Linked DNA regions of Homo sapiens. The protein of the gene in region 3 binds, or shares a complex with, the protein of the main gene of each other region. Each region holds a gene or a part of one and is shown on either strand. Other genes may lie near its edges.

Region 1 (7,404 bases), on a different chromosome or scaffold from region 3:
ACAAACCTGTGCAGAATTTCAGATTACTTATATAGATACTGCATTGAATTCATGGTGATTAATTCCAGTACCAGAAGAAAAACTGGCTGTTTTGGAGTTCCTGAGAAAATATCTATTTTCTTCAACATGTCACCTTCCTAAAATGTTTTCAAGGGTAGTTTTAACTGTTTTTGACTTTTTCCTTATGTGCTGACTTCAGAGCCTCAGCCTGAAGAAGGTGGGATTTCGTGGCCTTGTCTGCCTATAGAGCCCACTACAGGGCCATACACAAGGCAAGCCTTCTTGCTTGCATTTAAAATAGTCATAATGGTGCTTTATGCGGTGCCATGTGGTGTGATGTTTCTGTAATCATTTAGTGCTGAGACTGATAAATTTATCAGTCACTGGTGCCAGTTCAGCTGACACCCTCCACCTTCTTCCCAAACAAACCTCCTCCTTCCCACCTCCTCCTTCTCTCTCAGCCCCAATGATGACAAGCTTCTGATCATTGCCTGAAGCCTCTGCCTTGACCTATTGCATTCATGCCCACCATCAAGCCCAGTTTAAACCCGTGCCTCCTACTGATACCTCCTGCTAGGGTACTAGTGATTTACTATTCTTTAAGACAGAAGTGACCCGAAACCCAGCTCTCCCAGGATAGCTGCCAGGACCTGGCCATGATTCAAGCCCAAATAACATAAGCCAAATTACACACTCAGTGAGGAAGGCATTTTTTTCAAGTCCCCACCCTTGTGTGAGTGAAGGTGGAACAAAGATTGTGTGACCATGTTGTTCAAACACAGGAAAATGACTGCATTCCCTCCCCTTAGTTTTCATTTGTTGATTCTTCTCCAAGCCCTGACTTCCAACTGTACTTCTTTTTTGATGCTGCCTCTTGCTTAGAGGATTCTGAAGGGAAGGACAGGGTAGTATGCTGTTCTAAAGAGTATGGGACTTTATCCTGTAGGCATGGGGAGCCACTGAGCGGTTTTTAAGGTGGTCAGCTTCCTATTTTTGTCTTTGGAGGTAAGTTCACTCTGAAGGCCAGCCAATGGCAGGGCAAGGCACCCACTGTCCTCTCCAGGAAAGCAGTGGCCATTCTGGGCACACCTAAGTCAATCCAAAGCTGAGAGGGGCAGGAACTGATGTGATCTTAGGATGCCGAGACACTAGAATATAGCCAGATACACAAGGTTCAGATGTTCTGGCCTTACAAGCAAATTGTATTAAATCAGCCATGCTTCCTAAGCTTCGTCCCACCTTGGTAAACATAAAAAATAAGGATATCTGTACAACTCACTGGGATCAACTTGCGTGAGCTTGGATAATTCTAAAAGGAGCTTCATGGATAATAATTATTTACATTTCCTTTATATGGTACTCTTATAAAAAAGAAAAAGAAAAACAAAAAAATAAATGACATATAATTATGAGAAGAAAAATAAAAGCAAATCTTGGGGTAGATTTAAATATCAACTTTGGGTAAAATTTCCTGATAACATTCTTCTTGGAGTCTCTTTTAAATATCAAGTTTTGTGTTAAAAATAGTTCCTGATCATTGCTCCTGCACATAGTTCTTGATCAAGATTTTTTTTTTTTTTTTTTTTTTTTGAGATGGAGTCTCACTCTGTCACCCAGGCTGGAGTGCAGTGGTTTGATCTCGGCTCACTGCAACCTCCACCTCCCGGGCTCAAGTGATTCTCTTGCCTCAGTCTCCCAAGTAGCTGGGATTACAGGCACCCACCACCACACCTGGCTAATTTTTGTATTTTTAGTAGAGACGGGGTTTCATCATGTTGGCCAGGCTGGTCTCGAATCCCTGACCTCAAGTGATCCACCCTCCTTGGCCTCCCAAAGTGCTAGGATTAAAGGTGTGAGCCACCACGCCTGGCTGATCAAAATCTTTTTAAATGATCATCTCTTTAATTTTTGATAGTTACCATGGAGAAAAAACTTTTTTTTTTTTTTTTTTGAGTTGAAGTCTCACTCTGTCACCGAGGCTGGAGTGCAGTGGCTCACTGCAACCTCTGCCTCTCGGGTTCAAGCAATTCTCCTGCCTCAGCCTCCCAAGTAGCTGGGATTACAGGCATGCGCTGCCACATTTGGCGAATTTTTGTATTTTCAGTAGAGACGGGGTTTCACCATATTGGCCAGGCTGTTCTCGAACTCCTGACCTCAAGTGATCCACCTGCCTTGGCCTCCCAAAGTGCCTGGAATACAGGCATGAACCACCGTTCCCAGCCAAAAAGCTATTTGATACAAGAAGTGATGATAAAATGTAAAGCCATCGGCTATGAACCAATGGGAAAAAAAAGAAAAAAACACACAATAAAAAATCAAAAGGAAATAAAGACAATAAAAGAAACAAAAAAGAGCCATTTTTTTTCTGTTCGTATAGTTATGTAAGATTTTGTATAGAAGTGTATCATGCATGTATGTGTGACCACACAGCCTTGGTGTGCCACTGGACCAATTTTCACAAACACCCAGTACCAGCACCCAGTACTAGAGTTCTAGATCAGCCTAGCCAACATGGTGAAACCCCATCTCTACTAAAAATACAAAAATTAGTGCAGCCTGGTGGCTCAGGCCTGTAACCCCAACTACTCCAGAGGCTGAGATACAAGAATCGCTTGAATCTGGGAGGCAAAGGTTGCAGTGAGATCACCCCACAGCACTCCAGCCTGGGCGACGGAGTGAGACCCTGTCTCAATTAAAAAGAAGAAAAGAAAAGAAAAAGAAAAAAATAGTTGCTTCTCAGTTTGATGATATGCAGTCACTCTCACAAATCAGTAATTTATGCGACAATAATCACGGAAAATATACTGCTTAGGCTTATAAATATTTAAACAGATAAACATACTTTTTTTTTTTTGCAAGACCTCCCTCAGTCCCCCAACCCACTTTTTTATTTGACACAGTTAATAATAAATGATTTCTTAAAAGTAGAATACTTTTTTTTTTGCTTCTAGTATCCTGAAAATAAAGAAAAGAGTACATTTCAAGAAAACAAGTTGAAAAATTAGTCACAATAAAATGAAAGGCGATTGATCTAATTCCCTGATGTACACTCTAAGGACATACAGCTCTGTTGAAGGCTCACTGATTTACAGGGGAAAATATCTAGGATATACCACGAATAAAAAGAAGTCTAATATAATTTTTAAAGAGAAATATGCAAATACACCCTGAACTGAATTTCTTCTCAAAGTTCATTACAGCAAGAACTCCATTTTCCAATTCAGTGGTACATTCTCTCTAGGCTGCAAAAAATGCTGTGGACAAAATGACATTTGGAAAAGGTATCTTTAAAGATACCTTTAAGAGCAATAGTCCCCTTATGCCATTTACGCTCACATAAGAGACTGGAATAGCAAAGCACTATGAACAGTAATGAATGTTGTAAAACTCCCTGGTGAGGCTTAATCAATACTGCCTATAGCCGTGTCCACCGGAAGAAGCTCGTTCTCTGTGAATTCTAGTGGGAAAGAATGATTGAATGATGAACACGTTTTCACTGGTTGCTCTATCAGATACTTAAAAGTTTCTGGGAGGCCTTGCCTTTTTTACCCGAGGAAGAAGTGAAAATGCGTCTTGCACAATTGCTTAACTATTCCCAACGCAAGACTTCTTTATATCATTTATTTCCCTTGTATTACTGGCGCGGAAACTTGGGTGTAAAAGTGATCACAAAGATTACATGGGGCCAGGCGCGGTGGCTCACGCCTGTAATCCTCTCGGGAGGCTGAGGCAGGAGAATCGCTTGAATCCGGTAAGGTTGCAGTGAGCCGAGATCGCGCCACTGCACTCCAGCCTGGGCGATAGACAGAGACTCTGTATCAAAATTATAATAATAATAATAATAATAATCCGAGCCTGACCAGTCGCCCCACAGCGTCAAGGTGAAACCAGGTGACCGCGACTACAGCGTTTAATAATGGGTCCTCAGGCAAAAACTCCACGGATGGGAACCCCGCGCCTCTGAAGCTGCCTAACGAGGCGGTCTCCTGGTGGCGCCTGCCCCGCCAAAGGAGCAATGAGGGGGCTGCGTTTAGGCGAAGCCGGTATTGGGCGAAGCTTCTGGATCAGTCAGGGGCTCAGAAGGGACGTCTGTGGGAGAGGGGTCAGCACGGTATCCAGACCCCGCCCGGGGTGAGGTTGGTACTGAACTGACTGAGGGGCATGGAACCCCCACCCTCCACCCTGGTAAGGTGCCGGGGCCAGTTTGGGCCGGGACTCCTAGAATTTGAATCGGGGGTGGTCTAACGCTGTCGCCTGCGGGGTGTGCAGGAGGCCCCTAGTGAAGCCAAGAGTTCGTAGAGCCTGGGCGCCGCTCTATGCTCGGCTCTCGATTGCTCACGCCTGGCAGCGGCGAGCGGCGCACGCGACGGCTGGGGCTCTGCGCTCGAGGGGTCGAGCCTGGGCAGTACAGGCGGCGGTGCGCACTCTGCGGCGGCCTCTGCGCCTCGGGCGGGCGGGAGAGAGAGGCCGCGGCCGCCAGCGTGGGGATGTCTAGGAGCTCGAAGGTGGTGCTGGGCCTCTCGGTGCTGCTGACGGCGGCCACAGTGGCCGGCGTACATGTGAAGCAGCAGTGGGACCAGCAGGTCGGTGTCACGTGACCGTCTCTTCCGGGCCCGCGCGCGCGGCGTCGACCTGGGGCCTCTCGTGGTCTCTGCCCGCTCGGTTCCTCAGCTCCTCTTCGTGTCTTTCCCCCGCGGTGGCGCGGCCCTGCACCCCACGCGTTTGCGGCTGCGGCCGGCGGCCGCTCTGCTGGGCTCCGGGCGCTGCAGCTCCCGGCGGGCGTGTGCAGCCCGCAGATTCAGGACGACCCGGCTGCCCGGCTTAGCGCCTTTGGAGCTCCGCGCTGAAGGGGCCTTGCTCCGCACAGGCACGGCACGCAAGCTTTTGGGGTGCCCAGTGGCTCTGTTTTCAAGTCACAGCCGGCCCGCAGGGTGCGGACCTTTCCACATCTCACTTGGGCCGCTAGAAAATAGAAGGTGGGGAAGGAGTTTCTTGGGGTGCATTCTGCAAGCTACCAGCCTCCCTCCTGGCCCAAGGTTGGGGTTAAAGCCTAATGTGTTTTACGTGCTATTGATTTTATCCCATGGTAAGGGAGCCCCCCTTCCCCGTACTCACTCTCCATGCCTTTGACCAAGATAATTTGGTGAGATGTTTGCACTTCTCGTTTAAATGAACAGTTTGCTATGGAAACTAGAATCTGGGAACGATAGAGATAACAGTCTCCAGATTTTTTTTTTTGGTACTTTTATTTCAGGAAATATCCGTGACCTGCTGATCAGCAGTGACTATTCTGTCCTCTCAGTTCATATTTTCTTTCTTATTCAAGTTGACAGACCTTTAATGGGTGATTACTGTGTGGAAGCTACCTCACTAAGCACCTTGGGAATACAAAGATAAGGAAACTCCACTCTTCCAGAGTCTATCAGTGATTCACGACCTTGCTGAGAACAGGGTCATTGGTGAATTTTCAGAAAACAACTTGGCAGTGATTGGGGTTGAACCTAGTTCACCAAGGGTGAAAATAATGGACTGGATGAATCAAGAGTAAACAGTCTTTTCTTGATTTGCCTACCCAGACCTTTGGACTGTGCTATGTGCTTGATATACAGAGATGAAGTGGATGAGGTCTTTGTTCTTGGTGTTCACAGACTGTGGAAATTAGAAGAGAGGAAGCATGTGATGGTACAAGAATTTTGACGAGGGGTTGAGATGACTTAACAATGAAAGGGCACAGGAGAGATCAGAGATTTGGGATTAAAATGTGCTCCTAAGGGGCTGGCTTTTGGAATAGAGGCAGAAGACTTCCGCCTCTTACAAGGAAAAGTAAAAGATGTTGATCCTGGGAAAACTTGAGATGGAGTAAAATTTAGTATGACAGATGATCTGACGTCAGTGAAGTGATGTTTGAAGGGTTTGGGTAGGGATGGATTAGAGCTTGGCTTTGGACCCTAACTGAACATCAAATGTTCCCGGAAAGTTTTTACAATGTGACTAAGGCTTGGTCCCCACCCCAGACCATTTAAACCAGAATCTCCTGGGGATGGGGACCTGGTTCAACAATGTTTTAAAAGTAACCCAGAGAATTTTAACACAGGACTAAGCACCATTGTGTTACAGAGTGGAAAAGTGGTTATTTGGAAGTTAGAGCTGAAGAACCAAAATAACGTGTGTGTGTGTGTGTGTGTGTGTGTGTGTGTGTGTGTGTGTTTATTTTTTTTCCTTTTATGTCCGGTTCTTCATTAGGGGCTTACATTGTATTAATAGCAGTGGGAAAGACTAGGACAAATGATTAGCACAGTGGATGTGTCGGAAGGTTCAAGGAAGCAAGAAATTAAATAATGAATATTGATTCCTGACCGTCTACCACATACCAGGCAGTGTATTAAGCACTTTATGTATATCATCTGTAATCCTCACAGTAACCTAGCAAAAATTAAGCAGTGCTACATGAGGAGCCAGAGTTCTAGGTGTTAGGGTTGGAAGAATAAAGAGGTCTTTAGTGATTAGTAAGGAAAGTTGTTAGAAAGGTAGTTCAGTGAGGGTCACAGGAAGGATGTGTGAGGCAATCAGCATAGACCTTGAAACCTAGAGGAAGATAGCAAATGATGGGATGGAGAGCCAGATCATAAGCACACGTGACATCTCTGAGAAGGAAGGGTAGGATCTGGGAGGCAGGTGTGGAAGGAATGATTCTGGTGAATGGTGTGGGCTTGGGAGGGTGGGTATCGGTGTGTCATGGTGTAAGAAGCACAGGACAGGAAGACCTGCAGTTGGGGGAGTGGAATAAGCACCTCCGTTTTTGTCTCAGTGGTGATCTTGCCAAGGGTGCATGGTTCAAGACAGTTGTGTTTCAGTTGAGTTATATCAATCCCGGGACTCCTTCAAATCCCTCATAATGAAGCTGTAGGCCTGGAGGAGGTCCAGCAAGTAGGTATTATATTAGGTGAGTTTTTAAAAATAGGTAAAATAATTTGGAAAAAACCCCACAAACATACGCAGGCCCTGGGCCCCACTCCCATTAATTCTACTCTATATAGCCACTATTAAAAACCATTTATTGGCCAGGCACGGTAGCTCATGCCTGTAATCCCAGCACTTTGGGAGGCTGAGGCAGGCAGATCATTTGAGGTCAGGAGTTCGAGACCAGCCTGGCCAACGTGGTGAAACCCCGTCTCTACTAAAAATACAAAAAAATTAGCCAGGCCTGGTGGCGCACGCCTGTAATCTCAGCTACTGGGGAGGCTGAGGCACAAGAATCGCTTTAACTCAGAAGGTGGAGATTGCAGTGAGCTAAGATCGTGCCATGGAGCCAAGATCTCCAGCCTGGGTGACAGAACGAGACTCCTTCTCAAAAAAAAAAAAAAAAAACCAATAAAACAAAACAAAAAAAACCCTATTTATTTA
Region 2 (7,608 bases), on a different chromosome or scaffold from region 3:
ACCTTAAGAATTTCTTTAAAAATGTAATCTCTCAAAACAAAACTTCTTTGGAATAATTAAGCAATATGAGATTATAAATGTATAAAGTCTACAACCCCAACTAGGGAGAATTCTTGGGCGAAAATGTAGATTCTTAACCACTTTTAAGAATAGCATAATACAAGAAAAAAAGGTAAATTTTTAAATTTAAGGTAACACGTCAATACATGATTTTTAAAAACAAATCATCTTCATTACACAATGGAAATGCTTTTTCACTATAGCTTTCTGACTCACACATTAAACTGAATTTAGCATATTCCAAAGTTGAATTATTTAGCATACTGCTTGCTACAGCTGCACTTCTATTCCATCATGTCAATCAGAAATCTAAATATATCCTAGAAAAGAATCAACTCTCCCCAAGAAGACAGACTGTAATGTGTTATTAGGTTTTTGGAACGATCCCCACTTCTGTAGTGTAAACAAATGTTTAGGCAGACCCTGCTGAAATCTTTTGCAATTTTCATTAGAAAGGCAATGTTGATAAAGGTTCTTTTTCCTTTTTAAGAGTTGTAAAAAGAAATTATAGCTATCTGTGCTGGATAATCTTGTGAAAGACTTATGACAGCAATCACACATACAATGTAAAAATAAATACACAAGGGAAAAAATAGACAACTTGGCTTTCATTTTACTTGCTAGAGTATTCAGCACACCAAACAAGTAGAAAAAAAAAAAACTAGTACTAGTTTTAAGAATCAAATATGCTTTTTCCTAGGGATTTTTCTGCTTGTGTACTGAAATGGCAGGATATATTTTAAAACTACTTTCAAGACGTCATAAAGGATTAAAAATGAATCATTTAATCCTTTTGTCAATACTGAGAGTAAAATATTGGATATGGTCAATATAAGCAGATGTGTTCTCTACTTCAGTACAACAGGAAAGTCACATTTTAAAAAGTTAAATTATAAAAATTAAGTGATAGACAACCACCTGCCTATCAAAATGATTAAAATTAATCATTTTTCCCTGATTTCACAAGCAATCAATAACTTTAATTAGATTATTACAAAAGGCAAGTTCTCACCTCAAATTGAGTACAACTCTTTCACAAGAGTACATGTAAAAATATCGCAAAAGGTACGTTCCCGAAACATTATGAATAGTAAATATGTTTCTCCTCTCTGAAACCACCAGAATACAGTCCCCCAAATCCCTATTACGGGACCAAATCCTTTCCAGGATAAAAGAAACTGTTGAAGTTTTCAGAAGTGCTGTTCCATAAAAGCCTAAGTGTATACATTCAAATAGGAATGACAGCAGGAAAGGACGGGGAAATTTTCCGTTAAAAAAAAAACTTGCATAAACTTTCAATCAAAGATTTCAAAACTTATCTCCACAGAATAGAACAAAGCAAACGACATAAAAGCAAACGAAAAGAAAAAAACGAAAATTTAAAGTTCACCCTATTCTTACAGAATGGAACAGGAGTTATTTGGTAACTCATTCATGAACGTACCATCAAACCATTTTTAGAGCAGAAAACATACACCTTTTATTTAACAACGATAAACTTGACAACGTTGAACACATTGTATGTTAAGAATTTTTTAACTCATGTGTTCAGAAAATAAATCTTTTCCTCTACATTGGTGAAAGGTCAGGTGGGGAAGGGGGTGCTCTGTCTCCACCCACGTTGAAGTTCCTCCGTCTGAATTTTAACTTTCCAAAGGAGAATTTCTGCGTTCCTTAATTATTATCTAAGTTCAACTTCAGGCAAGTAATTCTTGTTGCTTCGGCTTACCTGGCTGTAAAGTGAGATCACTCTTATTCTTTACGTTTTGGGGACGCTGACCTAAATGTTTGCACTCCTTACATGTATTCGCTGGATGAAAAGTACTGCAAAAATGCTACAAAGGGATTGTTTTTAAAGCACCGGCTGCCTACATGCCAGTCTGGCTTTTTCATTAAGTTACTTACCAGGGAAGAGGAATGGAGGCTTTGACACGAAAGGGTCACGCGATTAGCAGACTGCTACCCTAGAACCTCATTCAAACCAGCTCTCACACACGACTTACCTTGTATGACATGCTCTGGTGAGATGGTCTTCTTTTCCGATTTGTTACAAATCTCATTGGCTTCAGAAGATATAAGGTGAATGAATTCAGTGCAGCAGTTCACCACCAGCTCTCGAGCATCGTTGGCCACCCGGACATTAGGAAGAGTCTCTTTGATCATTTTATTGATAGCAGCTCTGGGGATAGTGAGATCATCATCGTTGCCAGACGAGGAAGCCATAGTACCTTCCTGTTTCTCGCGCCCCGGCTTTTAAAAACTCCCCAGCTCTGGTCCACTACTCCACCGAGATTTCTCAAAAAGTCGCCCTCGGAGAGTGATCCCGGGGGGTGCTTTGCGAAGAGGGTGCAGAAAATGAACGGAGGAGCAGCTGGCTTGAGGGCTGGGAACACTCGCGTGTGTGAGAGATTTAGGATGAGTTTGGGAAGAAAGTGGGGGCCCGAGGATTCTAGAGAGAGCACAGCCCAGGCTGAGGAGGGGAAAGCGCGGTGGTCCGGAAATTTGAGCGGCTGGGGAACCACCTTCGTGTCTCCTCAGAGGGGCGGGCGCTGTCGCCTAACTGGTCCCCAACGGCGTCGGAGCAGAGGCAAGATCCAGGGGCACTGGCCTCGCCGCGGTACCGGGCGGGTACCCAGCGGGCTCGGCTCTATAGAGCCCGAGGCCCCGCTGCCGCTGCCGCCGCCGCCAGCAGCCGTTGCCGCCGCCTCGGCCAAACCATCCTTCAGACACCCGCGCCGCCGCCTCACAACATGTCCGCCGCTGCCGCTGCCGCTGCCGCTGCTGGAACGGCGACGGCCGCCTGGGAACTAATATGGACAGAGCCAGGCACAGTGGGAGTCGCAGTGGCTGCCGCCGTGGCCGCGTAGCCCGAACGCAGATCGTGGAAGCCGAAGACGCGGCAACGGTGGTCCCTCCAGATGCCAGGGAAGGTTTGCAGGAAGCCGCTCCCGACACCCTTTGCGCCACCGGAAGCCTCGTTCCCTCAGATTTCCCCCTCCCTCCCGGACCGACTTCCGGGTGTGGCTGCCGCCCTTCCCCCACCCACGCCGGCGGGAGCCGCCCGTTCGCGCTGCCAGCAGCTTCCGCCTGCTACGGTCCTGGCAAGCACCTCGGGATCCCATTCCTTCACAGGGACCCTAGCCAGGCAAGCGCGCGCCTCACTGTACCGGAGAGCTCCAAGCACGCGCTTGGTCTGGGGCCCGGACGCTACATCTGGGAAGGGGTGGGTGGCTGGGTAGATAGGCGAGGAAGGATCGTCTCTACCCTCTCTCAAGTAGCTGAGGCCTCCGAAACCTTCCCTAGCTGGATTTGGGGACAGAGGAGCGCTGGTATTGATAAAATAACTCTCTTTGCTATTCCTTTAGGAGCCCAAATGAGGATTGAAAGTGAGAAGAATGGGACCTGGGCTTGGGGGTGGGAGGTGGGGAAAGCAGAACCCCGTGTGCCTGTTTCTGCGTCGTCTGGAGAAAAAGCTTTTCAAGATGTCTGATAGACCTTATTCGGTTCAAAGCTCTCTAAAGTCCTTCACCTTTTTTTTTTTAAACTTCATGAAAAATGAAACATTTCAGAGAAGTTACTTGCCTAGAGGCAACTAAGTCGCCTAATGGCTAAGTAGGAAAGCAGAAGTCAGTTCCAACATAGTGGAAATGGAGTGGAAATGCATGGCATACAATGAGCTATATTAGAAGGTTCCCATTTAGACAGTTTTCATGTTGTATTCCATGTTGGCTTCTACAGGGGAAAAAAGTGTTAGAGCATCTTAAGCAACTGTTTTTACTTCTTTCCATAGTGACTAGTAATATCAACAGGTGTCAAGGTCTAAACAGAAATTGCATTTAAAAAAAAAAAAAGTGTGTCAGCCAGGCGTTGTGGCTCATCATACCTGTAAACCCAACACTTTGGGAGGCTGAGGCAGGGGGATCACATGAGCCCAGGAGTTCAAGACCCGCCTGGGCAACATAGTGAGACCCGTCCCTACAAAAAAAAAAAATATATATATATATATATATAATATATATTTATATATATAAATATATATTCCAACATCCCACTGTTTATAGTATAGCCTCTTCTATATGACAATATGAAACACGGGTTTTTTTTTCACCAGGCTTGGTGGCAGGCACCCGTAGTCCCGGCTACTCTGGAGGGCGAGGTGGGAGGATCGATTGAGCCAGGGGGTCAAGGCTGCAGTGAGTTGCGGTTGTGCCACTGCACTTCCAGCCTGGGTGACAGAACAAGATTCTTTGTCTCAAAAAAGATAAAAAAAAAAAAAAAGTAAAAAAACTGAGTCTGTCATACTGTCATGTGGAAGAAGAGGCTATACTATAAATAGTGGGATGTTGGAATTTCTAAAAACTAAACAAGACACTGTTGAAATCCATTTTGTCACTTTGGTTCATCAGATTCATTACTCTTGATACATATGATGGCAACTGGCTTGTTGACAGTGTTTTCTTAAAACGTTCTGTCTGAGCCCTATATGCTGCTCTCAAGAAGACATTACAGTTTATTATGCTATTTTTTCATTTAGCATTTTCTGCAGGACAACTTACTGGTTCTTTAATTTCTGAAGTGTAGACACTTGTTTTTCAGTGCTACTAAATTTAGTCAAAACAAAATTTCTTTGATTAAAAACAGTATTTTAATTAAATTTTCTTCAGGCTGGGCATGGTGGCTCATGCTTGTAATACCAGCACTTTTGAGAGGCCAAGGGGGGCGGATCACTTAAGCTCAGGAGTTCGAGACCAGCCTGGCCAACATGGTGAAACCTCACCTCTTCTAAAAATACAAAAATTAGCTGGGTGTGGTGGTGGGCACCTGTAATCCCAGTTACTTGGGAGGCTGAGACAGGAGAATCGCTTGAACTCTGGAGGCAAAACTTGTAGTGAGCCAAGATCGTACCACTACACTCCAGCCTGGGAGACAGAGCACGACTCTATCTCAAAAAAAAAAAAATACTTTATGAAGTGGTGGGTTTGTTTTTTTTTGTCAGTTTACTGTTGATTTAAAGATTTATTATGGTGCCTAAATTTATCTTGACCTTAACAAGTTTATCCGTCTGAAAAAGCTGGCTGGCAAAAAATGTCCCAAGTTGTCACAGTGTCACTGACCCTTATCTTGTCTCTCCTGAAAAAACTATAACTTTGCTTTTTCATGTAACATTTATGTTTATAGACTTATGCTAAATAGACGAGTAGAGCACACATTATTTCAGTAATAGTTTATTGCTACAGGCTTCTGTGGTAGCATAAACAGAATTGAATGTGTAGTAAGAGTTGTAGGTTCCAGTCCCAGCTTTTTTTTTTACTTAGACAAGTCACTCTCCAAGCCTCATTTTCTTCAGTTCAGATATAGAAATATTATGTAACACACAGGATTCAAAATCAAATGAGAGTTGTGTGAAAGTACTTTTTATAGTATGAAGTGTTATATAATGTTAGTGTCTTTTATCATCTTTATCAGGCTTGGTCAGTCTTCAACTAGTAATGAACCATGTAACTAGTTTATTACATACGTGGCTGAGAGAAATTTAATTGGATATAAATACCAGTGTGATATGTCATAAAATATGCTAATCTGTAGCCCATATTTAAATAGTTATTTATAGTACACTACATGTATCTGTATTATAAATAGGCTTTTAAGGACAAAGAGAACATCTCCTTATTAAGCTTTAAGAGTTTCAGAGAGAATGCATATATATGAAACTTTTTTTTTTCATGTTGTCTAGGTGTGGTAGTGCACACCTGTGATCCTACCTACTTGGGAGGCTGAGGTGGCAGGATCACTTGAGCCCAGGAGGCTGAGGCTGCAGTGAGCCATGACACTACTACACTCCAGCCTAGGTGACAGAGTGAGACCCTGCCTCAAGAAAAGGAAAAAAAAAGTTTAGCCTCAGAGTAGGGTTAGGGGAGTGTCACTGTCAAAAACAGTGGAGTTGAAAGGGAGCTGTTTAGAGAAGATGTGCTTGCTTTTGCACATGTTTGGGCAGGCATTTGTAGAAGTGGTGTCCTATAGAAAGTGGAAAGAGAAGACAGCATCTGATTTCTACATTCATTCAATAACTGTCTAGTGTCCTGACTATGATGTGGGAGAAATAAAGATGAATATAACTCCCACCTTGTTCTTGAAGACCCTATAATCTGGTGGGAGAAGCAGAATATAAACCAGATTCAAATAAATATTGTGATAAAATATACAGGCTAAGAATGCATGGGAAGAAGTGATTAACACACTAGTTGTGGAGTACAAAGGGTTTTATGGAGGACTGGATATTTTAACTGCACCTTGAAGATTGAGTACAATTTTGATAGGGAAGGAAAGAGCATGTAGCTGAAGAAAAAACACAAAAGTACATTGTATGGCTTGGGGAAATAAAGTAGTCTAGAGTGGCTCTATTAATAAGGTTTGTAAAGAGGTGTAGTGGTATATGATGCAGGAAAAGTAGGTTAGGGCAAAAAGAAAACAGATCAGTGCCTGATATGAATTATACACTGGGCCAAAAGTTTTTCATATTTGCTATTTCATTTAATTTCCATATAGCCATGCAAAATAGGTGTTTTGACATGGGGGGAAAACAGTCTCAGAGAGTTTTACTAATTTGTTCAAAGTCTCACAGATAATAAGTAATGGAGCTGAAATTTCAAACCAGGTTGTTACTTAACTCCAAAGCTGAAGCTATTTGTAATTTGGTAACTATCTCTAAATTAAAAAAAAAAAGGAAAAAAGGTTATATTCATTATAGGACTTTAAAAATATAAAGCACTTTCACATGTATTTGGTCTTTATAACTAGTCATTAATCCCAATTGATGGATGGGAAAATTGAAGCCCAGTGAGATTATTCAAGGTCACAGAGTGAATAAGTGGCAGATTGGAAATGCAACCCAAGCTTTCTGACTACAAAGTCTCAAGTCTTTCCACATCATTTTAAGAAGTCTGGAGATCCTTTTGTAAGCAGTGGAAAGAGTTAGTGAACATTTTTGAGAAGGGGGATGACATAAACAATAATGTTTAAAAAGATTAGTTTGAGTTCGCATGTGAGATGGTCTGGAATGGACAGAGACAAGAACATTAATTATTAAGCTATTGTAAAAATAGTAATGATGTAGACCTGAACAAAGAAAGTTTGGTGATAATAAGATAAAAGAAACAAATTAGAGGCATTTGGAAACAGAATTTACAGGATTTAGCTTCTGCCTGCATCTACCGTGAGATACGAGGACCGTGCCTAAATAATAATGGAGGTGGGGACAATGATGGTAAGAAGAGGTAGATTTGGATGGAGAGAAAGAAATAGCTATCCAAATGGATGTATCCAGTGAGAGTTGGACAGCGGAGATGTGGGATCATATAGTAGGGCTATGTAACAAGTCCCTCTATAGCAGGGTTTGTTTAAGCTAGACTGTAAGTACCCAGAGCCAGTGAGGGTCTGGTTTATTTCTGCATCCCCAGAGCCAGGACAGTCCTTGGCACTCAATAAATATTTGTTAACTTTGAAACTGGATAAAGACCTTTAAGGATGGTAGAATTTTTTGAAAAATGT
Region 3 (7,025 bases):
GACTGGTTGCTTAACTGAGTTCAGATTTTTAAAAGCGGGGGAAGTGAAGACGGTTAACAATAAAAGGAAAGAAACTGGGACCCAGGAAAAGATAAACTGAATATTTAGTATTAATTGGTATCGCAAGAGACAGAGTCTTGGTCTTTGAGCACAGAGAAGAGTCATTACATGGAAAGAGATTTGTTCTTTATTTCCCACCACTTAGAGAGAAAAATATGCATAAAACTCCAGCAGAAACTTTTAACGTTAAATTGCAATAAAAATTTCAGTAAACAGGTTTTATTCATGTCATTAAGTTTCAGGGTAAACTCTCTCTTCTGAGACAATCTGGAGAGACCTCTATCAGTGTAGTTGGTTTATGGCCAACCCTGTCTAGAAGCAAAGAGGAAGGATGCAATGCTACGTATCTTTGCAAAGTTCGGTATACCAAAGAAATAATAATCCTACTTTCAAAAATCCAGTCATTTAAAACTTCAGTCTTATTTTTCTATTACTATTTTCAACCATGCCATTTTCCTCATGAAATCTGATTTGCCATCAGCTTTTCAGAGTTCAACTGTTTCCAAGGTTTCTGTCAGACTGTCCTACCATCCTCCCACTCCTAACTACCCAGCTGCCCCTTGTGTTCTAGCCAAATAAATCTCTTGGCACCATTGTCCTTACACCCACTGCTGCCTCCACATCATTCTCCACCCCCTGTGTGTGGAATTGTCTCCCACTTCCATCTGCCATTTTTCTCTCTCTTCTCTATCATATAATTGCCCCAAAAGCCCACCTCTCCCAGGAAGCCTTCCTTAATCAAGGTTAAGGACTCTTCAGACTACAACAGACGTCACCTAACACTGATGGCTAATGCATCCCAACTTTTCAGAACAGGAGTTTCCTTTCAGGGATAAGAGGCAATCACTTCACAACCAACTAGGGGTGATGGTAGTGGTAAAATGTTTTCTACGAGATATGATTTTACAAGGAAAACAGGTCATTTCCACGTCATTCTTTTTAAAAAATCGAAGTCCTCTATTTGAATTCCCTCAGGTCCTTAGAGTGTCTTTTTCATTTCTTATCCCTTAGATGAATCCCTTCCCAGCTGCATGCATATTTACAACAGTCAAAAGTTTGAGCAGATGCTTCCAACAAAGCACACAGTATTTTAATTAGATATTTGAATGTAGAAGGAATTAAACAGTCAACTATTCGATGTGATTTGTGTCGATTCTGACGAAGTTATTTCTATATACAACTTTGTTTCTAACAGAAACAAGATAACCATAAGTTTGGCTTCTTATTCTGCAGAAACGTTTGAGGACCAAGTTTTACATGTGGTGGGGCTACTTACCCTCATATCTAGTGAGTCCCATATATAAAGCTGCTTTACTTCTGTTTTAAAAGCAGCTTTTATTGCAGGCTAGCCTTTCACCATTGAGAAATAGGGTTCAAGTCACAATCCAAGCAAAGCTGAGGTTTGTTGCATCATCTCCATCCTCAGGGGCTTGGTATCCTGGGAAACCCAGGGCAAAAACAGGGTGAGTTCAGGACACATGTGACAGCAGACAGTGCAGCGTGATGGGGCAGGCATCCAACACCTTAAGTGTGTTTCAGTTACCAGAATATTTGACACACCCACAAATTAAATAGCAAAACATTTTAATTAATTCTAAAAATAACAGAGACATGTTATATCCGGTGCCACCTCCTCAAAAGACTACTGCAGATTAGACAGGCAGACTGCAAAGTACAAAGCCAGACATTAAAGGTTTTTTTTTGTTTTTTTTTTTTTGAGACAGAGTCTCACTTTGTTGCCCAGGCTGGAGCACAGTGGCGTGATCTCAGCTCGCTGCAACCTCTGCCTCCTGTGTTCAAGCAATTCTCCTGCCTCAGCCTCCTGAGTAGCTGGGATTACAGGCGTGTGCCACCACACTCAGCTAATTTTTGTATTTTTAGTAGAGACTGTTTCACCATGTTGGTCAGGCTGGTCTTGAACTCCTGACTTCGTGATCCGCCCACCTTAGCCTCCCAAAGTGCTGGGATTACAGGTGAGCCACCTTGCCCGGCCGAAGTTAAAGATGCAGTTTGGGATAAGACCATCATAAGGATATTTTCTTCCCCTTTACTCATAAAAGTTGTCAGCTTAGGCCGGGCGCGATGGCTCACGCCTGTAATCCTAGTACTTTGGGAGGCTGAGGCGGGCAGATCACCTGAGGTCAGGAGTTTGTGACCAGCCTGGCCAACATGACAAAACCCTGTCTCTACTAAAAATACAAAATTAGCCAGGTGTGGTGGTGGACACCTGTAGTCCCAGCTATTCGGGAGGCTGAGGCAGGAGAATCACTTGAACCTGGGAGGCAGAGGTTGTAGTGAGCTGAGATCTTGCCATCACACTCCAGCCTGGAGGACAAGAGCAAACTCTGTCTCAAAAAAAAAAAAAAAAAGTTGTCAGCTTAAAAAATCCTTCAACGAGAGCTTTCTTATGCTCTAAAACCTTTCTCTTTATTTTAAATCTGTCTGCAGTGTTTGAAGGCAAGACAGATAATCAGCAAACTTACCTCGCAATATAAGGATCTGAGCTGGACTCCTGGGATTACAGACTGTGGTTTAGTTCCATTTCTACCAGCACTGTGATGTGAGGTACTATGGTTCTTTTAGTTACAAGAGGTGTTAGGAATGAATGCCCACTCACATTTAATAATAGCTTATGTAGCACACAACTCTGCAGCATAATACCAACAACAGGAGTGTTTTAAAGCAGGATGGAGAAGAAAGTAGACAATACAACTTAAGGTTTCCTTTGTCCTTTCCCCTGTTTTCACCATGAGAATTCAGCTGAAAAACAACTCTCCAGAATGCCCACCCATATTGTCCTTTGACCCACCACATTCCAAACTTCTGACTTCTGATCCCAAGCTCTTGGAGCCTTAGCCTTTAGTGATGTATCCTTCTCTGATGAGGAAATCATAGATTTTCCGGGTTTTGTTCACATCTATCTTGATGAGTGCTCTTGCCTGCGCCAGTCTTAAGCCTCCTTGCTTGTTACATTCGTTCAATAGAGCAGATTTGTATTCTAAATAGGCTCCAGGGACCAACCTCACCATCTGACAGAGCTGCAAGACACGGCAAATTTAATAAACATTAACATCTGTCATTTTTGTAATTTAATCCAGCAGGTATAGCAAAAAATTTTTTAAAGTGACATCAACCTCCAACTATTTATAGGAGCTGATGGGTGGCTGGACTACATTCCATTTAGTCTCTTCCTCTCTGGAGAGAACACTCCCTAAGGACACACACCCAGGAAGAGAAAGCCAGGGTGTGATACTAGAAGAGCCTTTAGCACATGCCAGCTGGCTCAGGGGCCTGGGTTTGTTAGGGATTTACAACTATGTGCTCCTGAGGAGCAGCCTGGCTCTTTCAGGAGTCAAACACTAAATGCCCAGGTACAGTCCCAGCACCAATGGTCAGGGAAGAGCCATGGGGCACAGTGGGGGCAGAATGCACAGACACTTGGATTCTCAAGGCTGCATCACATTGTTTTTAGTGTCAGCATAAAGCAGTAGTCCCTGCTTTGGGGATTACATTTCCTACTTCAAAGGGAAAGGAGATAAAGAGACCTTGCTAAGAGGAGGTAACTTTAACTGCTAAAAATCTAGAAAATTGCCACATTATCCAGCAATGAGGAGTCTGAGGTCACCATTATGTGGGTAAGGATAAAAAAAGCTTGAAATTCCAGGCCATTCAATATTTGAATCAGGCTGACCTATGACCTCCTTCAGCAATACATAGATACTACATACATTTCCTTCCACTCCCAAACTAATCCTTACTGTTCCTGGTGGATAAAATAAGACTAACACTATCCCCTACACTATGACCCTTCCTTATTATCTGAACTGAACTAATGATATATGGTGGGAGATGGGGAACTGACCTTGGGAATTATAAAAGGAGCATATGAGGAGCAAAAGAGGAACTCCTCCAAAAGAGGAACAGACTTCAGAGATGTGACAAAGTTTTCTGAAAACTCCTGATGATGACTCTTATGAGGCTGGCTTTAAATTTTAGAAACAGATAAAATCAATATGAAGACATGTCTGATGATTGCAACTGGAAAAAGTAGGTCACATAATTTTTTAATCAGGCCGGTGCAGTGGCTCACATCTCTAATCCCAGCACTTTTGGAGCTGGTGTGAGTGGATCACCTGAAGTCAGGAGTTCGAGACCAGCCTGGCTAACAAGGTGAAACCCCGTCTCTACTAAAAATACAAAAATTAGCCGGGTGTGGTGGTATGCGCCTGTAGTCCCAGCTACTCAGGGGCAGGAGAATCGTTTGAACCCGGGAGGCAGAGGTTGCAGTGAGCCGAGATCACACCACTGCACTCCAGCCTGGGTAACAGAGCGAGACTTTCAAATAAAAAATAAAAAATAGGCCGGGTGAGGTGGCTCACGCCTGTAATCCCAACACTTTGGGAGGCCAAGGTGGATGGATCATGAGGTCAGGAGTTCAAGATCAGCCTGGCCAACATGGTGAAACCCCATCTCTACTAAAAACTACAAAAATTAGCCAGGCATGGTGGCAAGCGCCTATAGTCCAGTCCCAGCTACTCGGGGAGCTGAGGCAGAAGAATCGCTTGAACCTGGGAGGTGGAGGCTGCAGTGAGCTGTGATCGCATCACTGCACTCCAGCCTGGGTGACAGGGCAAGTCTCCGTCTCAAAAAATAAATAAATAAAAAAAAATAAAAATAAAAAATAATTTTTAAAATCAAAATTAACATGACTATATATGATGTAGAAATCTTTTCCTTAGGTTTATAAACATGCTCTGGAGACAATTTACAAAAATGTTTTAAATAATGATTATGTTGTTGGAATAAGTATAGAACTTTTCAAGGCAGCCATTCTAATAGGAAATATCTATTTTCATGTAGAAGTTACTTTAGGTTTACAAAAAATTAATTTTATTTACATAAAGCACTCAGTAGAGTAGCACATGGTAAGTGCTCAATAGATGATAGTTGCTATTATTATGTCATCTACATACCACATGTGCTTTCCCCAAAAGAGGAATGGTGGTAGGGTGACAAGGTAAGCAATTCTCTGAAATCTGCCACAAACGGCTCTTTAGCTCTTGGACTTCTAGGATTCACCAGAGCTGTGCATATATGTTAGATGAATGAAACAAAAGGGGTTTGACCCTGTAATGGATTTTTAATGACAACTCAATGAATAATCAGCCCCTATTCTCTTTCTCCCAGCCCCCTCCCTTTTGTTACCTCCTTTTCTTTTTCATTCAGCTTCTCTGTGCCAGGGAGGCCAGTGAGGTTCAAGGGTGGTGCACTCCGTCTACCTATAGACAGAGAAAGGAAACAGCATAGATTTAATAGGAGTGACAATTTCTCAGGTGTAAAGTATTAAAAAGTTCAGTGCAGCCAGGCCAGTTAGGTATAGGATCACTATATCCAGCTTAGGAAATCCTGTCCCATTCCCTCAGGCCTGTTTAGCTAACAACATGGGCACCCGAACATTCACTTGAAAATGAATTACATATTCAGGGCACATGAATTACCCATAATCTGCTAAAATACACATACAGTCACACATACCTTAGCATCAAATGTAACTACTCACCACAGTAGTTATCTCTTATTTATTATTATTATTTTTGAGACAGGGTCTCACTCTGTTGCTCAGGCTGGAGTGCAGTGTTGCGATCATAGCTCACTATAGCCTCAATCTCCCTGGCTCAAGTGATCCTCCTGCCTCAGCCTCCCAACTACCTGGGAAGACAGGCATATGCCACCATGCCCGACTATCACCTATTTCTTCCTAACCATGTAGGAGACTCTAAAATCTGATGCCCAGATGTCATCCAGTTAAGAAACATCACACAATGCCTGCTTTGACAGCTGACGAATGGAAATAATAACTGCAGAACAGACATTCCCTAATCCTTGCCACTCGGCCAGCAGTACAAGGCAAACATGGTAATTAACCAAGTACTGTGTGCCTTCAGATCAAAGAAAGACTGTTAGGCCAGCAAAAGGCCCTTCTTTTTTATTATGTGAGGGAATATCTGTTCCTTCCAAAGTAGCCCTGTTTACCTGCAAGATCCACAAACAGGAACAATGAGCCATTATATGGCAAAGCAGGGGCTGAGGTCAACTCACACACCTGAGAAAGAAACCCAAGTAGGAGGTCACTGGCCAGGAGGGGAAGCTTGATGAGCAAAACTTTTTTGGTTTTGTTTTGAATGTGTATTAGGGATTGGTATTCAGCTGGGAATGGATAGACTGAGTTAAGCAAAGAAAATGTCGAAGTTTTATAGAGGTTGCTTTTCAAGTGGGGCAGAGAAAGGGGAGGGACTGTTACAAGCTCCACTGGTGGAAAACAGGCTTCTCTGTTACATCAACAAAAGGCATAAGGGATTATTCCAAATCCTCAAAAAGGGAGATAAAACCATTTGGTTCCTCACAAAAGTCACCAGAGGCTAGGCTACAATCAAAGATGCCAGGCTTCCAATACATAGTTGCCTTAAGAACTCAGAACATAAAGGAGAGCAAGAGATCTCCTCAGCCTAAATATAAGGGGTGAGAAAGGCTAACACAGGCTAGGAACAAACAATGAACAAGAGGCCGGGTGCAGAGGCTCACACCTGTAATCTGAGCACTTTGGGAGGCTGAAGCAGGAGGATCACTTGAGCCCAGGAGTTCAAGACCAACCTGGGTGATATAGTAAGACCTTGTTTCTACCAAAAAAAAAAAAAAAAAAAAAAAAATTTCTCCAGGTTTGGTGGCATTCACCTGTAGTCCCAGCCACTCAGGAGCTGAACTGGGAGGATCACTTAGGCCTGGGAGTTTGAGGCTACAGTGAGCCATGATCACATACTGCACTCCAGCCTGGATAGTAGAGGGAGACCCTGTCTCACAAAAAAAGAAAAAAGAAACAATGAACAAGTCAGTGCAGATAGTACAGAGAACAAAAATATATGATCATGTTAGCCAGTTCCTTCATTTAATTTAATTAATTAATTTAT
Region 4 (6,950 bases), on a different chromosome or scaffold from region 3:
TCCTTGGGCTTGACTGCACTGCTAAACTCCTTGCTAATAGGAAGTAATGTTGTGAGCCATTGCATGAAATGGCAATACAATTTGCCAATTATTATCCCAATTTACTTGATCATGAACTGTTTTGCTAAAATTAGCACATTATAGACTAGCATTCCATAAAATACACTTTAGGAAATGCTTGCTTAGCCATACTTCTCTATTTAATGTATCCTCCCTAAACATATTAAGCATGTTCAAGTTGCTGTTCATGTTTTCTATAAATTCCTTGAGAATTCTTATTTATCAATTCATATTTTGATATCAAATTCATATTTTTATCAATATCAATTCAGATTTTACTTTAAGTGTTTATAGCTTTTCCTGATTCTGGACCCAACCCCCTCCCCAAAGGAACTAATTGGCTGCATTACTTTATACATACCTCTAATATGGCCATTGTCACATTATATGAAGTTGTTTGTTTATATATCTACCTATCCCACTAGAACGGGAGCTCTTTGAGGAACAGTCCTTGTCTGATTCATCTTTGTAGCTCAATGTCAATTAGAGTGCCTGGTATATAGTAGGTACAATTAATTTGTATGTGTAAAATTATTGAGAATGGTTATGAAGGCTAGCTATATTTACTCCCTTAAGAAAACTTAGAACACTTTGAATTTGCTGCCACAAAAGAGAATAAACAGACTTGTTTCGTTATTTAAAATAAATTGTTTATAGCAGTCTATATGTTACAATTTTCCTTCAACAATAGGCACTTGTTTACTTTTTTCCATTTTATAAATCTGTTCACTTATGAAGGCAAATAAATTCAGCTCAACAGGCATATACTGAGCAATTAACTCTGTGCCAGAAACTATGCTAAGCCTTATGTACACCAACATATAAATGCTTATAGTTCAATAAGGAGACAGATATAGTCAAATAAATTCAAGTATCACTGTGATAACTACAATAATAGAAGTATATACAAGTTGTAGGAGTAGTTTAGCAGAGGAGAAAATAAGCTCTTTATGAGGGGGGATTCCCCAAAGATTTTCTAACTGGAGTTTGAAAATGGAAAAGGAGTTTCTCAAGCAGACAACAGGCACTGGGTAAAAATCAAAGCATGGAGGCAAGAAATAGTAAAGTGTTGAAGACATAAAAGCAGTTTCAGAAGCACTAAGCACCAGATGGTTTGTGGCAGAAAATGAGGCTGGAAATTTAGGCAAAGGCCACATCATAAGAGCCTTCATGTCATTCTAAAGAACTTGGACTTATGCAGCAGGTGATGGGGAGACAGGGACGACAAATACCATTTATTTTACTTTTTCTGCATTGAAATAAAATCTGTATTATCATATATGCAACAAACATCAGTTGAGCCCTTCTAATACCTCAGGTATTTTGCTGGGAACTGGGTTATTCAATAGAGTTATGCCATTAAAGCTCACCATAAAAGACATTTTTGTTGATAAGGTAAATAGCCTAGATTTCATTTATAGTCTCTATCCTCCCAATTGATTCTTGGCATAAGCCTGCTGGACAGTATTTCTAACTCTGTTGCTAACGCGAACACCAACACTTTGAATCATTTCTGCCAGGCAGCAGATTTTTCAGCAACCCACTTTATAAACTGTAATTAGTTTTCCATAAAGAGCAAATTATTCCCTTTATTCCCTTTCTAAATTTCATAGCGCATATTATACTTTTGTTATACATACATACACACATACAATATCTACAAATTTCTATTTTGAGTTGGCCCAAAGGAATCCAAATCTTTTCAGGCTACAAACTCTTCTATTTAAAATAGAATTTTCTATTATAAAATAAGAAAATGAGAAAAATTTCCAAAATGAAGGTAATAGGCATCAAGAAGAGTAAGAAAGGTCCTTAGAAAGAAGAAAGAATGCACAAAAGAGTTAACAAATTTTAAGTACTACTGGTTGAGTATCCCTTATCTGAACTACTTGGGACCAGAAGTGTCTCAGATTTCGGATTTTTTTTAGATTTTGGAATATTTGCATATATATAATAAGCTATCTTGGGGATGGGACCCAAATCTAAACACAAAATTCATTTATGTTTCATGTATACTTTATACACATAACTTGAAGGTAATTTTATATAATGTTTTAAATAATTCTGTGCATGAAACAAAGTTTTGACTACATTTTAACTGTGACCTGTTATGTCGGATCAGGTGTGAAATTTTCCACTTGTGGTACTGGCACTCAAAAAGTTTCAAATTTTGGATCATTTTGGATTTTGAATTTTCAGATTAGGAATGCTCAACCTGTACCTAAGTAAAGAATACTAAGATACAAGTGCAGGTCTGGATATCAAATCACAGAATTACATGGAGAAGCAATACACAGATCAAATGGCCATCAGTTAATTCTGTATTAGAGGCTCAAAAGAACAAGTAAAACTTGAAAATTCAAAATCAATGATGGCAAAGAAAGGAATAGCAGCACCTTGTTAAAGACAACATTTTTTAAATATACAAAGCATATTCCCAAATGTGTTGCATATCAGTGTTCTCCATATTTGAAAAAATATGAAACACCTCAATGAAAACAAATGATCTGAAACTGATTGCTAATTTGGTACAAAACAAAAACTTACAGTTACCCCATTACCATGCTTGAATAAGAAGGTTGCTCAATTTGAGACTGGACATTGTGAAGTATTTTTCTGCCTGTAGAAATAGGCTGGAATGTCAGTTGTATATCTTGCTGCCAACAAGGGAACAGAAAAGATTTCCCAAGATTCTGTCAAGCCTGGTGATCCCATTTGTCTTTGGAAATGAAAGCCTAATTAAGAGACTCCCTAGGGACAGGTCAAAGGAGTTTTTATCCCCATCGTCCTTATCTTAGTTCCTTGATGCATTAGTCCTTCCCTTTAATTTAGTCTACCCTAAAACTAAAGAATACACATTGTGCAAGTTTCCACCTTTGCTTTCTCTACTGTAAATGCATTAGACTATTAACAGAATTACGAGTTTTAAATCCCACCTTCCTTATCTCTAAGCTGATGTTGATTTCTTAAAGTGTTTTTGAATAAAGCTTAACACTAAAAATTATTGTAATACTTTAATTGGATAACACTTTTTAAAAATATCGGAGTCTGACTAAAAGATTACAAAACCCCACAAACATCGTTATAATAAAGCTATTATGATAAATAATACTTTGTAAAATTTGAATTCGGTTTTATGTCCTAATTTCAAAGATTGTGGTTGCATGATATTATTTATCCAGGTTAAATTCCTGTTGGAATTATATTGACAGTGTTTCATTTCTTTGAAACAATTTTAGGGTTAAGCGTCTCTACAGTTAAAACAGAGAATATCAACTGTAGTCCCAGTTACTCAGGAGGCTGAGGCAGGAGAACCGCTTGAACCTGGGAGGCGGAGGTTGCAGTGAGCCGAGGTAGTGCCACTGCACTCCAGTCTGGGCGACAGAGTGAGACTCTGTCTCCAAAACAACAACAACAAACTTGAAGAGATGAAAATGTTCTATCCAATCATGATAATTCCGTGTGAGTTTTCCAATGTTTAGAAACACGTGTGGGCACCACTCCATCCCTGACCAGCAAGCTTCCTCCAGACCCACTCCACACCGCCATGTTAAAATGTCAACTTTTACTTTTTGGACTCAAACTACAAAATTTAACTATGTCTCCTCTTACCAAGATTCACAATGAACACCTAGGAGTCAAGGTAGGCTTCATAACGCTAAAGAGACCACGACTCTAATGACCACCCCAAACACAGCATTCCAGCCTAGCTGTGGTCTGCAATTACCCACTTCAGAGCCTCGGCGCAATGTCACAGCTGCAACTGATTGGTGTAACGTGCTTGTCATTCACATAGAGAGGGTGGGGCCTCAAAGCCCGATCTAAACCAGACTCCGTGTCTTACGTCATCGCCAAGCGACTAAAGCTGGAAGGGAGGGGGCGGGGTTGTGAGCAAATCTTGGTGGTGGTGGTGGTGGGGCGGCCTGAGAAGATATCATGGCTGCTGCCACGGAGCTTAATCGCCCGAGCAGCGGTGACAGGAACCTGGAGCGAAGATGCAGACCCAACCTCTCCCGAGAGGTGCTCTACGAAATCTTTCGCTCCCTACACACCCTGGTTGGACAGGTGAGAGGTGGCCTGAGGGACTGGGAATATGGAAACCATCCGGTCCCTCCTCGCCATTCTTTTTCTCTAGCAGAGGCCGGGGGCAGCTAGGCCTGCAGAGGTGTGGGATGCGGTCCCGAAGCCGAGGTGTGGAAGGAGCCCGGGCCCAGCCTCCTCGGTCGGAGTGAGGAGGACGGCGGTACCGGTTGCAGAGTCGTTTACCTTGCAGCTGTCCTCCCCAAGAGTGGGTGAGGTTGGCCTAAGTGAAAACCCGGCTCCGAGAGAGGCAGGCTTGGAGAGAATGAATGTGGAAAAGCTTCACTGCGAGTTTAGGAGGCGCTTAGCGTTCAGGGTCCTTTTTCCTCCAACTTACTCTTTATGGGAATTGGTTGGTCAGTAGGCCTGAGATTTATAGAAAAGCGCGCGCTTATTAGCTTTTTTTGGTGGGGGAGGGAGTAATTTGTTCTTATGAGTTACTTGGTTTTGTTTATTTCTTTTTTCCTTCGGGCTGTTTTGCGCATCTATAATCCTTTCAAATGGGGAGAAAAGTAAAAGGAATTCATTTAAAATACTTCTAGCGTAAAATGCTGTTGGCGTTAGAACTGTCGTTATTTAACTATTAACTAGTTTAACTGGCTGATAAATCGCTTTTGCAGAAATGTCATAGTAAAATTGGTTTTAAATTGAAATGGGCTTCTTCGATCAAGTCACTGTTTCGTTTCATGGTGTAAAATTCAAGTTTTAAATGAGAAACAATTTAAAAGTATGCTTGTTTACCTGCCTTTTAAAAGGAAATATTTTCTATCTTACATAGACCATTTTCTAGCCGTAAAAGTTTGTTTTGGGGCTGGTACTAGCGCAAGTGGACAAAGCAGGCATTTGTGTCAAAGATAATGGTAAATTCCTATGAAAATAGAACATTTGTCTGATTTGTGAAAATTATTTTTAAAGCCTTGAGTAGATGGAGAATCAGTCTTTTAAGAAGTTACTATTTTTAAAAATCGTAGTATGTTGTGTCTTACAAAGAACATTACTGTAAGTTAAACGGTTTTATGAAATGACGCAGTTATTAATGGAGTCTGCTTAAAGATATAACTTTTAAATTCAGTTGTTTGCCAAGTACTTACCAAAAACATTTTTTAAAGACTTGGGGTGTTTTGTTATTAACATTCCATTCTTAAGACCCAAGACGTTTAAATGGTTTAAAAGTTAGAGAACTTTTTATGGCGACGTTGGAACTTAAGTTTATTTATTTTATAATGTCAAGATGAAAAAAGTTTATTCTCACCTGTTAACAGAAGATGGAATATTTTTAAAAAATACTGAGCAATGATTTAAACATTTCTTTTGAAATATTTTGCATACTGAATTTTTCAAACTCATTAGAAAATTTTAAACATTCAAGTACTGTACAAGTAAAGAAGTGATTACAATTTACTTATGTCACCTGTCAAAAATGTTCACAGTAAATATTTGGTTACTTTACCATGACACAGTGAAGGGACCTCCTATACAAGTGTCAAAAATATGATTGTTTCATCAATTAAATACAAACTGTTTTCATAATACTCTATATTTTGAGAAGTGTTAAGAGTGAAAATTAGAGTTCCATACTTATAAAATTGCCCCCAGAGAAATCAGTATTTTCTTTTGCAACCACTTTAAAGGATATTTAGAATGTATGTTGTAACATGCCTAACTTCATCCTGTGTCATCCCTAAGTATCGTTGTATTATTAGATCTCCTCAGTAGGAAACATAAAACTGAATGTTAAAAATAATTTTTTACTTAAGATCACAAAATTTACTAATTTTAACCTTTTTGCTTGCCTCTGGATGGTCCATCTTACCAAGCTAAACAATTATTTATTTTTAGCTTGGATTTTTGTATTAATTTAGTAAAGTTTTTACTGAAAATATATATTTAAATAGTCTATATTAATAGCAGACTAATAGAGATTTTCGAGTGAGTGGTTTACTCTTCCAAGTTCTGTAGGGCAAAATGCATAGAGTTCATATTACTAATAATGAATTTGTTGAATGAATAGTTAGATGTATTAGGACAGTTTTAAAATTAATTTGTGACATTATGTGGTTTTCTTAAAAGACTAATTATTCTTAATTGCACTTGAAGCTTATGTAATTCTGCTGAATTGAAATGAGAATATGAACCAAACATTAAGACTTATTTTTCTATAAGTTATTTTCTCTAGAAAATGTGATACTTTGCTTTGGTTGAGGATTTGCCTGCTTTATCCCCAAGCTGTATTCTTAAGTTTTCTATAATCAACTATAGATCTCCTTGAAGACTATGAAAGTACATTAATGGGTTACTTCCATACATAATACAGGTTGTTGTCTAACAAAATCTTTATAGGAATTAAAGTAATATAAATTAATGCATTAACTTTAATGTACAATCTTAATATATTCTAATCTTTGCCAGTGCAGCCTACATGAAATTTCATATCTCTTTATACTTGTCTAATATGGACTTTTAAATGCTTCCATTCTCATCTTCAAAGGGCAGTAAATTTCTGTCACATAGTATTTATTCAATATATTATCTTTTTATTGGTAACCTTATATCTTTTTGATCTTTGTACAGTGATTCATCTTTTTTATTATAATTGTGACTCATAAAATCTGTATTTGAACTCACGTAACACCTTTATTTTGTAGAAAAGATGACTCATTTTGAATAAATTATGTTAACTTGATTCTACTATGAAGTATAGTCTTATACTATGCTGTAAACACATGTCCCTAGAAAAGTTTTTGATGGTTCACTTTTATTCATTCAAAAGACTGCAGATGGGCGCTCTCATTGTAAAATTTTCACTCATT

Evidence for each region.
Region 1: TADA2A (region 3) and KAT14 share a complex: the UniProt entries of both Homo sapiens proteins name them as parts of the ADA2A-containing complex.
Region 2: TADA2A (region 3) and DR1 share a complex: the UniProt entries of both Homo sapiens proteins name them as parts of the ADA2A-containing complex.
Region 4: TADA2A (region 3) and MBIP share a complex: the UniProt entries of both Homo sapiens proteins name them as parts of the ADA2A-containing complex.

Annotation. Positions count from the first base shown.
Region 1 is NC_000020.11:18,133,469-18,140,872, forward strand, and holds the start of KAT14 (cysteine-rich protein 2-binding protein), read left to right. Parts: upstream 1-4,394; 5' UTR 4,395-4,487; coding exon of another isoform or gene 4,488-4,583; intron 4,584-4,602; exon of another isoform or gene 4,603-5,086; intron 5,087-7,404. Other genes in the region: protein PET117 homolog, mitochondrial precursor, read left to right, coding at 4,488-4,583. UniProt on the Homo sapiens protein: Component of the ATAC complex, a complex with histone acetyltransferase activity on histones H3 and H4. May function as a scaffold for the ATAC complex to promote ATAC complex stability. Has also weak histone acetyltransferase activity toward histone H4.
Region 2 is NC_000001.11:93,341,321-93,348,928, reverse strand, and holds the start of DR1 (protein Dr1), read right to left. Parts: upstream 3,023-7,608; 5' UTR 2,284-3,022; coding exon 2,064-2,283; intron 1-2,063. UniProt on the Homo sapiens protein: The association of the DR1/DRAP1 heterodimer with TBP results in a functional repression of both activated and basal transcription of class II genes.
Region 3 is NC_000017.11:37,472,870-37,479,894, reverse strand, and holds the end of TADA2A (transcriptional adapter 2-alpha), read right to left. Parts: intron 5,340-7,025; coding exon 5,266-5,339; intron 3,099-5,265; coding exon 2,913-3,098; 3' UTR 170-2,912; downstream 1-169. UniProt on the Homo sapiens protein: Component of the ATAC complex, a complex with histone acetyltransferase activity on histones H3 and H4. Required for the function of some acidic activation domains, which activate transcription from a distant site. Binds double-stranded DNA.
Region 4 is NC_000014.9:36,317,635-36,324,584, reverse strand, and holds the start of MBIP (MAP3K12-binding inhibitory protein 1), read left to right. Parts: upstream 1-3,947; 5' UTR 3,948-3,996; coding exon 3,997-4,125; intron 4,126-6,950. UniProt on the Homo sapiens protein: Inhibits the MAP3K12 activity to induce the activation of the JNK/SAPK pathway. Component of the ATAC complex, a complex with histone acetyltransferase activity on histones H3 and H4.